Regions from separate parts of the Homo sapiens genome. Here region 2 is linked to region 1. A link means that fine-mapping ties the variant in region 1 to the expression of a gene that starts in the linked region. Tissue or cell type: cerebellum. Region 1 holds a variant in brackets; the other region holds the start of a gene. All regions are shown on one strand. Distances are between the middles of the regions.

Region 1 (8,106 bases):
AAGTAGCCTTCAAAAAAGTTTTCATGCTGGGCGCAGTGGCTCACACCTGTAATCCCAGCACTTTGGGAGGCCAAGGCAGGCGGATCATGAGGTCAAGAGATCGAGACCATCCTGGCCAACATGGTGAAACCGCATCTCTACTAAAAATACAAAAATTAGCTCGGCATGGTGGTGCGCACCTGTAATCCCAGTTACTTGGGAGGCTGAGGCAGGAGAATCTCTTGAACCCGGAAAGCAGAGGTTGCAGTGAGCCGAGATCGCGCCACTGCTCTCCAGCCTGGAGACAGAGTGAGACTCTGTCTCAAAAAAAAAAAAGTTTTCATTAGTTGGGATCTTGTATCCTCTTCCCTTTCTCAAGTGATGTGTTTTAAAGCAGACATTTTCATATCCTTTGGCGGAGGTGAAAGACCCAGACCTTTTGAAAAGTATTTTACAAATACGTTCTTGAAAGCACTCCAGACTGACTCGCTTATCTTTGGTCACATGACAGTACAGCTGCACTTTGAGGCCTTTGCCTATAGCCTATTGGTTGCCTTACTTCGGAATTGTAGACGTGTGGGAGAATAATGCTCCCATTCTTCTCCATCTTATCTAGTTCTAGAAGATATAATGGTAATGGAAACCTCACCTTTTTCATAGTAAAATGTAGCTACCCAGGAATGATGAGGGGCACCATCATATCAGGTAATATTCATTCCAGTTATATTTTATGAGGTAAAATTGATACTGTTGTTGTGTTGTTCTTACAGATTTTGACAGGCTCCACCAAAGTGTTTTTAAATGACTTATTTAGCCTCTAACTCTCCCCTGAATTCAGTCTCCAGACGCCTACTTTATGTTTCCTCTTGGATGTGATAATAACTATCTCAGATTTAAAATGCCCCAAACCAATTTGCTGGTTTCCTTTTCTTCTTCTTTTTTTTTCTTGAGATGGAGTCTTGTTCTGTCTCCCAGGCTGGAGTGCCGTGGCATAGTCTCGGCTCACTGCAACCTCCACCTCCCGAGTTCAGGCGATTCTCCTGCCTCAGCCTCCCGAGTAGCTGGGACTACAGGCATCCACCAGACCACCTGGCCAATTTTTGTATTTTTAATAGAGACAGGGTTTCACCATGTTGGTCAGGCTGGTCATGAACTCCTTACGTCAAGTGATCTGCCCACCTCGGCCTCCCAAAGTGCTGGGATTACAGGTGTGAGCCACCATGCCCGGCCCAATTTACTGATTTTCTTCTCATAACCTGCTCTTTTTGAAGTCTTTCTGCCTCAGTAGCTATTCCATTCTAGTACTCGGTGAGGCCAGGAGTCATCCTTTATACCCCATATTCAATACATCAGGAAGTCCTGTTGGCTGCTGTACCTTTGAAATCCGTGTATAATCTGTCCATTTCTCACTGTCTTCACTGCCACCATTCTAGTCCAAACCACCATCATGTCTCACCTGGATTATCATAGTAGCCATGCAAATGAACTTCTTGCTTCTGCCTTTGCTCCCCCACAATGCTGTCCCAGTAGGTAGCCAGAGTGATCTTTTATTCCTTTTCTCAAAACGCTTCTGTGACTTTTAGTTCTCAGAGTGTAAAGCTAAAACGCTTTTTAAAAGGAGTCTTAGGATCTGTAAGCCCTACTCAGTCTGTCCCCTTGCCACCACTCTGTTTATTATCTTGTGGGTTTTTTTTTTTGTTTGTTTTTTTTTGAGACGGAGTCTCGCTCTGTCGCCCAGGCTGGAGTGCAGTGGCGCCATCTCGGCTCACTGCAAGCTCCGCCTCCCGGGTTCACGCCATTCTACTGCCTCAGCGTCCGAAGTAGCTGGAACTACAGGCGCCCGCTACCACGCCCGGCTAATCGCCCGGCTAATTTTTTGTGTTTTTTTGTAGAGACAGAGTTTCACTGTGTTAGCCAGGATGGTCTCGATCTCCTGACCTCGTGATCCGCCCACCTCGGCCTGGAGTGCTGGGATTACAGGCGTGAGCCACCGCGCCCGGCTTATCTTGTGTTTAATCTTTTCCTCCTCTCTCCTGCTAGGCGATCCACACAGGCCTCCTTGCTGTTTCTCAGAGGTAGAGCTCTGATCTCAGCTTTATAGCTACTATTTCTTAAATGCTCTTCCTCCAGTTAACTGTATATAATGGTGCCTCACTCATTCAAATCTTTGCTCACATATACTTCAGCAATGAAGCTTGCCCTGACCATCGTTTTTAGAGTTAAGCTTCTCTATCCCAGCATAAATCTATCCCAGAATAAATCTCCTCAAATATTTTACAGGGTTTGACTGTTTTTGTCGACATAAGTCTAAGGTTTTTGACCTGAATGTGTGGTGACTCTTGCTTGTAATGGCTGTATTGTTTTTGGCTACTGCAATTCTGTGAGTTAGCAGAAATAGGAGCAGCAGGAAGATGATTTCAGTATTGTAGCTGTTGTGTGTTAAACACTTGAGAAACCTGCAAGGGGACATCAAAAGCAATTGGAAATATATGACTAGAGATCGAGTTAAAGAAACTACTCTGAGGAATAAAAGGAAGCCTGAGCCTAAACAGAGCTTCAAGTTTATTGTCTTCACAAAGTATTCTTCTTTTTATAACCGTATGATTTCTTAGCCTTTGTAACTGTCCTGTAAATTCTGCTTATTTCTAAATTACTATTAGTAAAGCTCTTAAAATGGGGAGGGTTTATACATTTACCAATGGTCAGATTAATGGGAGAGGAAGCTCATGGATTTCTCCAGAATTTTGAGTTCTTTTTTTTTTTTTTTTTTGGAGGTGGAGTCTTGCTCTGTTGCCCAGGCTGGAGTGCAGTGGTGCGATCTTGGCTCACTGCAACCTCCACCTCCTGGTTTCAAGCAATTCTCCTGACTCAGGCTCCTGAGTAGCTGAGACTACAGGCGCACGCCAGCATGCCCGACTAATTTTTGTATTTTTAGTAGAGATGGGGTTTCACTATGTTGGCCAGGTTGGTCTTTAACTCCTGACCTCCTGATCTGCCTGCCTTGGCCTCCCAAAGTGCTGGGATTACAGGTGTGAGCCACCGCACCCAGCCTAATTTTGAGTTCTGTAAAGAACAATTAACTGCACTATCACCCAGACGTGGTTACCTTTCTTGTTTATTGATTGCTTAATATGTATTTAGCATTCATTCAATATGTGTTGGGAATACATTATAGGCTGGTAAACAAGCAATTACAGCACAATATTCTATATTAAGTGCCAGATGCAGAAAATAATAAGAGTCTTAGGGATGGGGTCAAGGGATGGTTCTCAAAGGAAATGAACCGTTAGCTGAGACAAGCAGAGGAGTTTCGGTGGAGGTAAAGGGGATGGGCAACTGATCAGAATATGTAAAGCCCTGGAGTAAAGACAAAGCCAAGCATTTTGAGGGGAACTGAGAAGGTTGGGCAAAGCGGGAATGAATTAAAAGAGATGAGAGCTAGAGATAAAATACTTGATATTCAAGGCTTTGGGGCATTATCTTGAAGAAAATCTTAACATTTTAAAGGAATTACATAATGAGATTATCATTTGAAGATCTCTAGCTATAATGGGGAGGTTCAAACTGCCAGGGGGCTTTCATATTCACTGTGTCTAGGATAGGGCTTAAAAAGTTACTTTTTTTTTTTTCCTTTGATTGTAGTACACGCCCAACATTTTGAGAACAGTTGAATTAATAGGGTTCTTTAGTAAGCCTGTTAGTTTTGCTTATCCAAATTGTCATGGTGGTGTTAGGGCCAGCGGGAAATCTTTTTCTCTTTTGGGCTGGATGGTGTTACCAAAACACCAGGGGTTTGGTCTAGGTCCTGCTGCTTGCCGCACAGAAAGCCAATCACAGAGACGGGTATTGCCAGGGAAGAAGGCTTTAATTGGGTGCTGCAGCCAAGGACATGGGAGATCAGTCTCAAATCCATCTCAGTCTCAAATCCATCTCTGACTGACTAAAATTAGAGGTCTATATAGCAGAGAAGAAATGTAACCATGTGTGGGCAAACAGGAATTAGAGAGGGGTGAGGAAGAGAAGTTGGTCAACAGGCAGCAGGTGGTCAGTTAAGCAATCATGCAGGCTCTGGCTTCTCATTGTCCAGTTGCAGTGAT[C/G]TGTTAAGTAAGTTTCAGCTTCTTAATACTATCTAGGAGGCCTGATGGTTTGTTTCCTAAGAAAGGAGCTTAGATAACACAAATAGAACTTTCTCAAGTTTTAAGACTGTGAGGATCAATTTCTGTATTTATTCAGAGAAACCATAAAGATCAGTTCTGTGGGATAATTGGCTGGTTTCAATGTTATCTTTCCTTGAAGGAAGTAAACAAAGCATTAAACTGGGGCCTGATTAAAGTGGGCTTATTGATTTGAGAAATTCAAGTATGGTAAGTTGTCCCAAGTCAGTAATGTATTTTACTTTTTTTTGTAATCTGTTAGAAGATGGGAGCAGGCAAAGGGAAGGAGGGAAGCTTTCACACAGTGGAGAAAGAATGCTTTTTAGGCTTCAGCCAGTTTTTCTTATCACAAAGCCCTCACCTACTTCTTGTTTCATATAGAATTCTTCCAGTTACCCAGTCACTTAAACCAGAAACCTGTGAGCTATCCTACACTTTCTCCCTTATATAGTTGGTTATTCAGTCCTTTAATAAAATAATCTTTAGGCTGTGTACAGTGGCTCACACCTGTAATCCCAGCACTTTGGGAGGCCGAGGTGGGTGGATCACTTGAGCCCAGAAGTTTGAGACCAGCCTACCAAACTAGCAAGACCCCGACTCTTAAAAAGAAATTAGCTGGGCAGGGTGGCACATACCTGTATAGTCCTAGCTACTTGGGAGGCTGAGATGGGAGCATCTACTTGAACCTGGGAGTTTGAGGCTGTGTTACTGGTGGAGGGTGTCCAGGTTCTTGGCATCTTGAACAAAGAACTGGACAAAACACACAGACAAAGCAAGGAAGGGATGAAGTCAGAGATTTATTGAAAATGAAAGTACACTCCACAGTGTGGTGGCGGGCCCTAGCGTAGGGGCTCAAGGGCACCGTTATAGAATTTGTGGGGGTTTCAATACCCTCTAGAGGCTTCCATTGGTTACTTGGTGTATACCCTATGTGAATGGAGAGGTGAAGTAAAGTTACAAAGTCATTTACTTGGTGTATGCCCTATGGAGAGGATATTTCCTGTCATAGCTGAAGTGTGAATCGGCCTAATGTTCCCTGCCTCCAGACCCTATTTTCCCATCTCAGCAAGCCGTGTTCATACTACTGTACTCCAGCCTGAGTGACAGAGTGAGACCTTGCATCCAAATAATGATAAAAATAATAAAATAACCTTTCATGTCTTCTCAGATCTCTTCAAAACCCTTCCCGCTATCTTCTAAACCCTTTCCCTCATCAACACTGGTTAAGTTCAGATGCTCATATTTTTCATGGAATATTATGTTGCTTCCTTGCATCCCACAGGTCTAGGGTTGTTGAGTTGCTTCCCTATCTTGAAAAAAAACATTTTTTTGAGACAGGGTCTTGCTCTGTTACCCAGGCTGGAGTGCAGTCATGCAGTCATAGCTCACTGCAACTTTGAACTCCTGAGCTCAAATGATCCTCCTGCCTCGGCTTCCCAAGTAGCTAGGACAACAGGTGTGGGCCACCATGTCCTGCTGATTAAAAAATTTTTTTTGGTAGAGATGGGGAGTCTCACTATGTTGCCCAGCCTGGTCTTGAACGCCTGGCCTCAAGTGATCCTCCCACCTCAGCCTCCGAAAGTGCTGTTACAGGTGCAAGCCGCCACTCTTGGCCCTGCCATCTTAATATATGCTATTTAATTTAATTAATTAATTTATTTATTTTGAGACGGAGTTTCCCTCTTGTTGCCCAGGCTGGAGTGCAATGGCGCCATCTTGGCTCACCGCAACATCCGCCTCCTGGGTTCAAGCAATTCTCCTGCCTCAGCCTCTCGAGTAGCTGGGATTACAGGTGCTTGCCACCATGCCCGGCTAATTTTTTGTATTTTTAGTAGAGACAGGGTTTCATCATCTTTGCCAGGCTGGTGTTGAACTCCTGCCCTTATGATCTACCCGCCTTGGCCTCCCAAAGTGCTGGGATTATAGGCGTGAGCCACTGCACCTGGCCAAATCTGACCAGATACAACCGCTTATGCCTGTCATCCTAGTACTTTGAGAGGCCAAGAAAGGTGGATCACTTGAGCTCAGGAGTGTGAAACCAACCTGGGCAACATGGCAAAACCCTGTCTTTACAAAAAATACAAATATTAGGCATGGTGGCGCACACCTGTAGTTCCAGCTACTCAGGAGGCTGAGGTGGGAGGGTAGCTTGAGCCTGGGAGGTCAAGGCTGCAATGAACTGTGTTCATGTCACTGCCCTCCAGCCTGGGTGACAAAGCGAAATCCTGTCTCAAAAATTAAAAAAAAAATCATGGCCAGGTGCGGTGGCTTCATGCTTGTAATCCCAGCACTTTGGGAGGCTGAGTTGGGTGGATCATGATGTCAGGAGATGGAGAATCTCCTGGCCTTTAGTAGAGATGGTGAAACCCCGTCTCTACTAAAAGTACAAAAATTAGCTGGGCATGGTGGCGCGTGCCTGTAATCCCCGCTACTCGGGAGGCTGAGGCAGGAGAATCGCTTGAACCAGGGAGTCAGAGGTTGTGGTGAGCCGAGATGACGCCACTGCACTCCAGCCTGGTGACAGAGTGAGACTCCGTCTCAAAAAAAAAAAAAAAAAAAATCAAATCTGATCTTTTAAACTATATTTGTACTAGATTGTCTTTTTTATTTTTTATTTTTTTAAAGAACTTTCATATTCTTTTACATTTTTCTGCCTTTGTTTTTCCTGTGTGATGCTTTTTCCTTTTTCACTGGGACATCTTTCCTTGTCATCAGATCTTTTGATTTTTTTTTTTTTTTTTTAGGAATCAGAAATCGTTTTGTTTGTTTTTTGCAATGTTGCCCAGGCTGATCTTGAACTCTTGGACTTGAGCGGTCCTTCCGTCTTGGCCTCTCCGTGTTGGGGTTACAGACGTGAGCTACCACACCTAGCCCCCCCCCCCCTTTTTTTTTTTTTTTAAAGAGTCAAGGTTTCACTGTATTACCCAGTCTGGAGTGCAATGGCAGTTCACAGGCATGATCATTATGGCTCTTAACAGCCTTGAACTCCTGGCCTCAAGGGATCTTCCTTCCTCAGTCTCCCAGGTAGCTGGGATTAATAGGCACTCTCCACTGCTTCCGGCTCCAGAAATCTTCATTTTAATGTAGTATCTCAATTTTTAAATTTTGACAACTGTTAATTTACTTTAAAAAATGCTATCAAATTTGCAGCCTCATTTATAGAGATTTCCTTGATCATTCTCCTTTCCCCCTGCAAATTTAATTGCTCAGTCTTTGTGTATTTCTGTCATTGCATAATTTTCAAGCTATTATAAACATGATTCTCATACAAATAGACATTGATACATATCATAAACTTTTTTGAAAGTCCTGAAAAATAGTGGAATGAGAAATTGGGATTTATATAGTCAGTTTAGGCCAGGTGCAGTGGCTCACGCCTGTAATCCCAGCGCTTTGGGAAGCTGAGGAGGGCGGATTGCTTGAGGCCAGGCCTTCCAGACCAGCCTGGCCAACATGGCCAAACGTTGTCTCTACAAAAAATACAAAAAATTAGCTGGGCATAGTGGCACATGCCCATCTACTTATGGGGCTGAGGCAGGAGGATCGATTGAGCTTGGGAGGTCAGGGTTGTGGTGAGCCATGATTACGCCATTGCACTCAAGCCTGTATGACAGAACGGGACCCTGTCACACTCAAAATAAAGAAAAGAAATATAGTCAGTTTAATAAAGAATGCTGAAATAAAATTGCTAAGATATAAACGTGGTTAATATCCTACAGGGTATTTAAACTGTAGCTTTTTGGATAACCTCTACTGACTGGACAGAAAAAATTTATTTTACCGTAGTAGTTTTCTGTAAGTTTACTTTTAAATTTGTAGAGTTATAAACTGCCTGGGCCTTAATTGAAATTAGAAATAAAACAATTAGATGACCTCAGGTGAGCCTATTACAAAATGCTCTTGTCATAACATTAAAAGTCATACAATTGATACCTTATTTCAGGTTTTGAATAATTCATTTGAAACATGTTAA
Region 2 (8,094 bases), 100 kb after region 1:
TTTCGGAGACAGGGTTTTGTTCTGTTGCCCAGGCTGGTGTGTAGTGGCACGATCTTGGCTCACTGCAACCTCCGCTTCCTGGGCTCAAGCGATCCTCCCATCTCAGCTTCCCGAGTAGTTGGGACTACAGGTGCAAGCCACCACGTCTGGCTAATTTTTCTATTTTTAGTAGAGACAGGGTTTCACCATGTTGCCCAGTTGGGTCTGGAATTCCTGAGCTCAAGGGCTCTACCTATGTTGGCCTCCCAAAGTATTGAAATTACAGGCGTGAGCTACCGCGCCAGGCCTCAGTTTCATTCTTTTGCATGTAGATATCCAGTTCTCCCAGTACCATTTGCTGAGGAAACTTCTTTCTCCATTGAAAGATCTTGACTATAGATGCATAATTTTATTTCTAGACTCTCAAGCCTATTCCACTTATCTATATGTCTTTATATCAATACCATAGGTTTTTTTTTTAATTACTATACCTTTGTAGTACATTTTGAAATCAGGAAGCATGAACTTTTTAAATTTTTGGGTCCTTTGCAATTTCATATGCATTTTAGCATACACTTTTCCATTTCTTCAAAAATGTTGTTGAATCTGTAGCTCTATCTGGGGAATATAGCCATCTTCACAATATTATGTGTTTGATTCCATGAACATTAAATGTATTTTCTTTTCTTTTTTTTTTATCTGAGAAGTTTCACTCATCACCCAAGCTGGAGTGCAGTTGCACGATCTCGGCTTACTGCAACCTCCACCTCCCGGGTTCAAGCAATTCTCCCGCTTCAACCACCCGAGTAGCTGGGATTACAGGCACCCACCACCACGCCCGGCTAAATTTTGTATTTTTAGTAGAGACGGGTTTCGCCAAGTTGGCCAGGCTGGTCTCAAACTCCTGACCTCAGGTAATCCACCCGCCTCAGCCTCCCAAAGTGCTGGGATTACAAGCGTGAGCCACCGCGCCTGGCCATGTCTTTTCATTTATTTAGATTTTCTTTTTTTTTCAGTAGTGGTTTGTGGTTTTCAATGTATAAATCCTGCACCTTCTTGGTTAAATTTATGCCTAGGTATTTTATTCTTTTTGATATTATTGTAAATGGAACTTTTAAAGTTTCCTTTTCAATTGTTCATTTCTAATACATTGAAATGCAACTGATTTTTATGTGTTGATCTAGTATCTTGCATCTTTGCTTATTTCATTTATTAGCACTAATAGATTTTTTATTTAGGATTTTCCATATATAATATTATGTAATTGGTTCCTTTTGTTGGAAAGGGATATTAAGAAATCAACATCCAGGTGCTAAGTGTACTCGTAGCTACTTTGATATAATTGCTTCTAGGACCTCTTAGCAGACAGAGCTAGATAATACATACATATACACATACATATATCTATATTTATTTATTAAAATCCATGAATTCTTACTGATTCCATCCACTTTAATTCTATTAGGAAAACTGGAGGCAGAACTCTCCATGTTGCAAGTAGCAGTGTCAGAAAAGCCCCAGTGTGGGAAGCAAGAGGTATACTGTGATCGATTCTGTGGCTGCAGTAAGAAGTGGCGTAGAGATGACTTTGAACTGACACACGAGATGTGTTCAGTGTACTTAGTTTCTGTAATAACACTCTCCTTGTTTTCTTCCTACCTCTCTGGATACTCTTTTTTTGGATTCCTTTTTGAACTTCCATTGCTCATGCCTTAAATGCTGGGTGTTCATCTGGGTTCTGTAACAAGCCTATTGCCCTCTCAGCTCACTTTCTAGATTAGCTCATTGATTCTAATGCCTTCCAGTACCTTTTGGGTAATAGCTACAGCACATGTTTTCTGTGCTTCAGATAGGCCTGTTTGACTACATACTAAACAGCTTCACTTGGATATTCTGTTGGTGCTAGTGTGTCAAAATGGAAATGTCCTAAACTCATCACTATGGCCTATTTCACCCTTCCTCCTGGTTGCAACTAGGTTTTCTTCCTGTTGCTTAATGGTTTCTTGTTGCCCAAACCAGAAACTGGGCATCCCCATGGACTACTGCCTCTCTTTCACACCCCTACATCCCAGTCCTCTTGATTCACTCTCCTAAATATGTCAAATATGTCCATTCATCTCCATCCTTATGGCCACTGCCGTAATCAGATCGCTATTATCCCTCACTTGGATTACAGCGTGCTAATTGACCTCTCAGACCCATTCTTAGAACCATTAAAAACTTGAGTTCTGAGTTTTAGGCCTGGCTGTGCCACTTATTAGCTGCATGATCTTGGTCAGACTGCTTAATCGCTTTAGGACTCAGTTTCCTCATCTGTAATACAGAGGTAAGAATAGTACCTACTTCATAAAGTAGTTGTAAGACACGTATGAGGTGATGTAGTCAAAACTATTAGCATATTGGCTGACTCATAGTAAATGATCAAGAAATGTTAGTTATGATCATGATCATCATTGCAGGGTTATTCACCGCACAGCCTCTGTTATTTCTCCATTTTCTTTTCTGATTGCTTTCAGTCTTTCAGCTTTTCTGAACCTCTTCCTGTTGCTCCAGTGTTGAATGCTATCTTTTGCTTCCAGGCCTTCCCTCTGCTCCATTTTCCTGGAATTCTCTTCTCCCTTGCCCCTTGCCCTCATTCATTCTAAGTTTATCCTTAACTTTCTCTTGATTTGGTGTCATTTATCTGTGCTCCAATAACACTCTTTAACTTCCTTTATTGAGGCTCTTATCTCACTACTGGAGTTGCCTACTTATTCGATGGTCTCTCAAGTAAGTCCTGACGTCAGGGACCAGTTTACCTTGTTTACTAATAGGGTGCCTGACTTGATGAATGAGTGAATGAATGGGTGATGAATGGGCCATAGCACCATCCTAGGTTTTCTGATCTCCTGTCTGGTATACTCCTGGTGAGAGCCTTGCCTGGCCACAGGAGTGGGGAAAGCTGAAGGCAGGCTTTCCCTGTGCCATATCAGCCATTAGCAATTACTACATTATTGGTTTCCCAGATTTTAGCTGATCAGTGATTCCCAGGACTATTCCTCTGGACATGAACATGAGGCTACCTTTTCCCTTTTTTTTTTTTTTTTTTTTTTTTTTTTTTTTTGAAACAGAGTCTCGCTCGGTCGCCCAGGCTGGAGTGCAGTGGCGCCATCTCGGCTCATTGCAACCTCCACCTCTCGGGTTCAAGCGATTCTCCTGCCCTCAGCCTCCTAAGTAGCTGAGACTACAGGCGCGTGCCACGACGCCCTGCTAATTTTTTGTATTTTTAGTAGAGACGGGGTTTCACCGTGTTAGCCAGGATGGTCTCGATCTCCTGACTTCGTGATCTGCCGGCCTCGGGCTCCCAAAGTGCTGGGATTACAGGCGTGAGCCACCTAACCCGGCCTTTTTCTCTCTTAACCTCACCAACAGTCTGATGGCCCTTCTCTCACACGGGAAGAGCTCTTGAAGTTATCAACCTGTTAGGACATTTGTTATCTCTAAACCCGAGTTTACTGTGTTATGTTTGCCTGGAAATGTTATATCAAATGTATGAAATTGCCAACTGTTTGTAATTTCATATGGTTCATCCTATATGTGATTTTGTAAATTGGACCCACCTGAGAAGCTAACTGCTGTAATGCCAACTGTGAGTAGCTACAGACTGGAAAGGTGATGGAGTTGACCGGGTGGGCCTGCGACAGCTGGAATTTGCGGTGGAGGTAGACACAAGTCAGCGAGACGGCTTAGAAGGCAGAAGGGAAGCTGAACTAAGGCTTCTCAACATTTTACTCTGCTTAGAAGTGGAAACATTTGGTTCAAAGGGCCTTTGCCTTAGACTCCATAGGGACAGGCCCAAGGGCTGCTGTTCACACCTCCTGGCCACTGAGAGGGATGAACTTGGCTGCCTCTGAGTGGGAACCACGAGGTCTGACCCCCTACGCAGTCCCAGGTTCACTACCCCGCAGGCCGGAGCGACACCGTTGGCGCTGGGAGAAGAGAGCCGCTGGGTGGCAGCAAAGGCGCGCAGGTTTCTTCCGACAGAGGCGGTTCCTTAACATACTGTAGTTTTCTTCTTTTTAAACTCATTGCTCTAACACTCTTAGAAATTTACAGTGGTTTTATATTCTTGAATTACACAGTGTGAGCAGAGACTCCGTTTGCCATTTCCTCCCGGAATTACATTGATTTTTTTCCTGCGAAATTTTTTACTTATTTTTCTCCCATGTTATTTCCAGGAATCCTGGGCATTCCCTTGCCCCGGAAACGCCGTGTCCAGGCCGACCTAAGCCAGGAGCCGCAGGGGCGGGAAGCCGGGGGCAGGGCCGGGCCTGGGACGCCGCCTCAGGAGCCGCGCGGACTCGGGAACCTCGGGCGGGGCCGGCGTGAGTACGCCCGGCACCTCCGGCTGCTACGGTGGCGACCGCGAACTGATGCCGTGGAAAACACCCTTAGAACATGGCTTTTTGGGGAGGTGAATAGGGGAGAGTCCCCAAACGACACCTCGCCGCGCACCGGTCCTTGGTGCAGTTTGTAAATGTCCCTCCTGTGTCCCAAAACGAAAACACTCCTATATTTTGTAGCGCCTTCCAGAATGGGGCAGCGGAAACTAGTGTTGGGACAAAGGAGGCGAGCGGGGCCTTTTCGGGGCTCACAGAGGACCCCTCGGAGGCGCGGCCGCCGGGGAGAGCGCGACAGCACCCCGCCCCCCGCCAGCCGGGCGGGGGCCGCTCCCGAGGTGACAGGAGAAGGCGGGAGGTGGAGGAGAGAAGGTCCCGCCCCACCTCGCTCTCCTTTACGGGAAGTGATGTGGGGCCAGGCGGAAAATACCCGCCAACGACCCAAAAAAGGCCGGCGGCGGGTGGACGCGGCGCGCGAGGACCCGAGCCAGGCGGGGACAGGACGGCGGGGCGAGCCAGGTGAGGGGGCCTGAGGAGCGGGAGGCGCGCGGCGGGTCCGGTCCCTCCGGGAGGGCCGAGCGAGGCGTCCCCCTGGGGCCGTCCTAGGGCTGGGGTCCGAGTGCGCCGCCCTTCCTCCCCGCCTCCAGGCGCCCGAGCCCGCCTGAAGAGTGGCTTCTCTCCCAGGCCCTCAGCGCAGACCCCAGTGATGACAACTGCCTGGTGCTGGCCAGGTGCGGTCCCAGGTCCGGCCAGGGTCTCAGATCGCCTCCGGGTTGCATCCAGGTGGGAGGATGCCCATCAGGGGTAGGAAACTTTCCAGGAGGGAAAGGAGGAAAGTCCCCGACCTCCCGCACGCCCCCCGGTTCATTCCTCCCTCTTTTGCTTTCAGTTTAACTGTTTAACCTGGTTGCCCTCCGGTTGGTGAGGGTCTGGACTGCAGACTAGCTGCGAGGGAGGGGCTCTCTCTTCTCCTGTCAGTTAGACTGAAAACTACCTGGCAGCCAGGCCCTCCGGTCGGGACTGGTGGTGGTGCAGATATGATGACAGGCTTTGGTAACTATTGCCAAAGCCTGTCTCTGTCCCAATAGATCACCAGTTCAGCAAAGTCAGGCCTGAAGCGAAGGGAGTCTTGTGAGCCCTGGACTGAGGAGCCTTCCCAGCCTTTCCGCTCCTGCTGGCCACCTGGGCCCACATGGCCTCAGGGTCTTCTGCCACAGGGTCCTTACCCCTACAGCTTAACAGCTGTTCTTTCCTTCTGGATGGATTCTCACATTTTATGGTTGGTTGATCAGTCAGATGTTGGAATTGGGGGTAGAGGGATTATAGAGTTGTGTGTGCTATTTAAGTTTTCTGTAATCATTGCTAATTAAATTTGTTGATTCTCCACTCACTGTTCTTGTTCTTTTTTTTTTTTCGGCCTTAAAAACTTGCTTTAGAGGGAAAATACAATCTGGAAAACAGTTTCTGCAGATGGTTAGAAGTGAAGAAAGGTTAATATAATGCTGAAGGAACTTGACTGAGGATCATTATTTTCTGTATTTTATGTTGGTTTATGTTGTTTTATGTTTTCATTCCTACTTTTTTCTTCCTTCCTTTCTACCATTCTCTCTTCCTCCCTCCCTCCCTTTTTTCTTCCTTCCTTAATTTCTGTGACGTGCCTTGATTTTTAATTTCGTTGAAGTATATTTAATCTATTTTTCCTTTTTTTTCTTTTGAGACAGAGTCTCACTCTGTCGCCCAGGTAGGAATGCGGTGGCATGATCTTGGCTCACAGCAACCTCCGCTTCCTGGGTTGAAGTGATTCTTTTGCTTCAGACTCCAGAGTAGCTGGAATTACAGGTGTGTGCTACCATGCTTGGCTAATTTTTGTATTTTTAGTAGAGGCGGGGTTTTGCTATGTTGGCCAGGCTGGTCTTGAACTCCTGACCTCAAGTGATCAACCTGCGTCAGCCTCCCAAAGTGCTGGGATTATAGGCTTGAGCCACTGCACCGAGCCTATTTTTCCTTTTGTTGTTTGTGCTTTTGATGTCAAAGTTAAGAAAACATTGTCAAATTCAAGATCATGAAGATTTATACTTATGTTTTCTTCTAAAAGTTTTATAGTTTTTAGCTCTTACATTTCATTCTTTGACCCATTTTAAGTTAATTTTTAAATATGGTGTGAGGCAGGGGGTCTGACTTCAACTTTTTGCATGTGGATATCCAGTTCTTTCAGCACCATTTGTTTAAAAGACTGTTCCTCTTTGAATAGTTTTGGCACCTCTGTTGAGATAAATTGACCATGAATGTAAAGGTTTATTTCTGGACTGTCAGTTCTATTCCATTGATCTGTATGTCTGTCCTCAGGCTAGTATCATACTACCTTGATTATTGTAGCTACATAGTGTTTTGAAATCAGGATATGTGAGTCCTCCAACCTTGTTCTTTTTCAAGATTGTTTTGACTATCCAGTCCCTTGAATTTCCATATGAATTTTTTTTTTTTTTCGAGATGGAGTTTTGCTCTTATTTACCAGGCTGGAGTGCAATGGCACGATCTCAGCTCACTGCAACCTCCGCCTCCCTGGTTCAAGTGATTCTCCTGCCTCATCCTCCTGAGTAGCTGGGATTACGGGCATGTGCCACCATGCCTGGCTAATTTTATATTTTTAGTAGAGACAGGGTTTCTCCATGTTGGTCAGGCTGGTCTCGGACTCCCGATCTCAGGTGATCTGTCTGCCTCAGCCTCCCAAAGTGCTGTGATCATAGGCATGAGCCACCATGCCTGGCCTTCCACATGAAATTTAAAGTCAGCTTCTCAATTTCTATTGTTTTGGTTCTAAAATAGATGTAAGGGTTTTAAAGTGAGCAACAATCTCTAGGAGCCAGATTTTTGAGTTTTCTCTCCCAAAGCTGCTTTTCCCCTAGTCTTCTCCATCTTAGTGAATGGCAACTTCACTCTTCCAGATGCTCACACCAAACACCCTGAAATCACTCTTGATTCTTTCTCTTATACCCCACATTAAATTCCTCAGCAGGCCGGGTGCGGTGGCTCACGCCTGTAATCGCAGCACTTTGGGAGGCCGAGACAGGTGGATCACGTGAGGTCAGGAGTTCAAGACCAGGCTGGCCAACATGGTGAAGCCCTGTATCTACTAAAAATACAAAAATTAGCGGGGCGTGGTGGTGGGTGCCTGTAATCACAGCTACTCAGGAGGCTGAGGCAGGAGAATCGCTTGAACCCAGGAGGCGGAGGTTGCAGTGAGCTAAGATCGTGCCATTGCACTCCAGCCTGGGCGACAGAGTGTGAGTCCGTCTCAAAAAAAAAAAAAAAAAAAAAAAAAGAATACATCTAGGATGATAACCATTTCTCACCACTTCTGCTGCTTCCACCAAGTTCTATCATCTCTGTCACCTGGATTACTGCAAAAGCCTTCTGAAGGGCTTCCCTGCTTCCACCCTTACTGCTCCACACTCTATTCTTAACACAGCAGCCAGAGTCTATTATGTCACTCTGCTTGAAACTCTCCAGTGGCTTTTTATCTCAGAAGTGACAGAGTCCTCACCATGGTCTATACAACCCTTGCATGGAGTGCGGCTTCATCTGCTATCACTCTTGCCTTTGCTGACTCTGCTCCAGCCATACCTCAGGACCTTTGCACTTGTTTCCTCTGCCTGGAATGCTCTTCCCCTCAGATGTCTGCATGGCTTTCTTATTTATTTCATTCAGGTGAAAAGTCATTTTTCTGGAGAGGCCT

The links. PIP is the estimated chance that this variant, and not a neighbour inherited with it, causes the effect.
Region 2: it holds the start of RAB27A, and the variant in region 1 is fine-mapped to the expression of RAB27A in cerebellum (GTEx, PIP above 0.99). The same link has a PIP of 0.9 or more in anterior cingulate cortex and nucleus accumbens.

What each region holds. Positions count from the first base shown.
Region 1 is chr15:55,390,798-55,398,903 of GRCh38, reverse strand. All of the region lies in intron 1 of CCPG1 (cell cycle progression 1), which reads left to right. The region is part of intron 8 of DNAAF4-CCPG1 (DNAAF4-CCPG1 readthrough (NMD candidate)); the gene reads left to right. Among named protein-coding and RNA genes, the nearest start is that of CCPG1, 14 kb to the left of the region's middle. The variant C/G (reference allele first, on the strand shown) is at 4,077.
Region 2 is chr15:55,286,499-55,294,592 of GRCh38, reverse strand. RAB27A (RAB27A, member RAS oncogene family) reads left to right here and starts at 4,780. Exons shown (of 7, transcript NM_183235.3): 1 at 4,780-4,877. RefSeq lists an enhancer at 4,313-4,462 and a silencer at 4,563-5,092.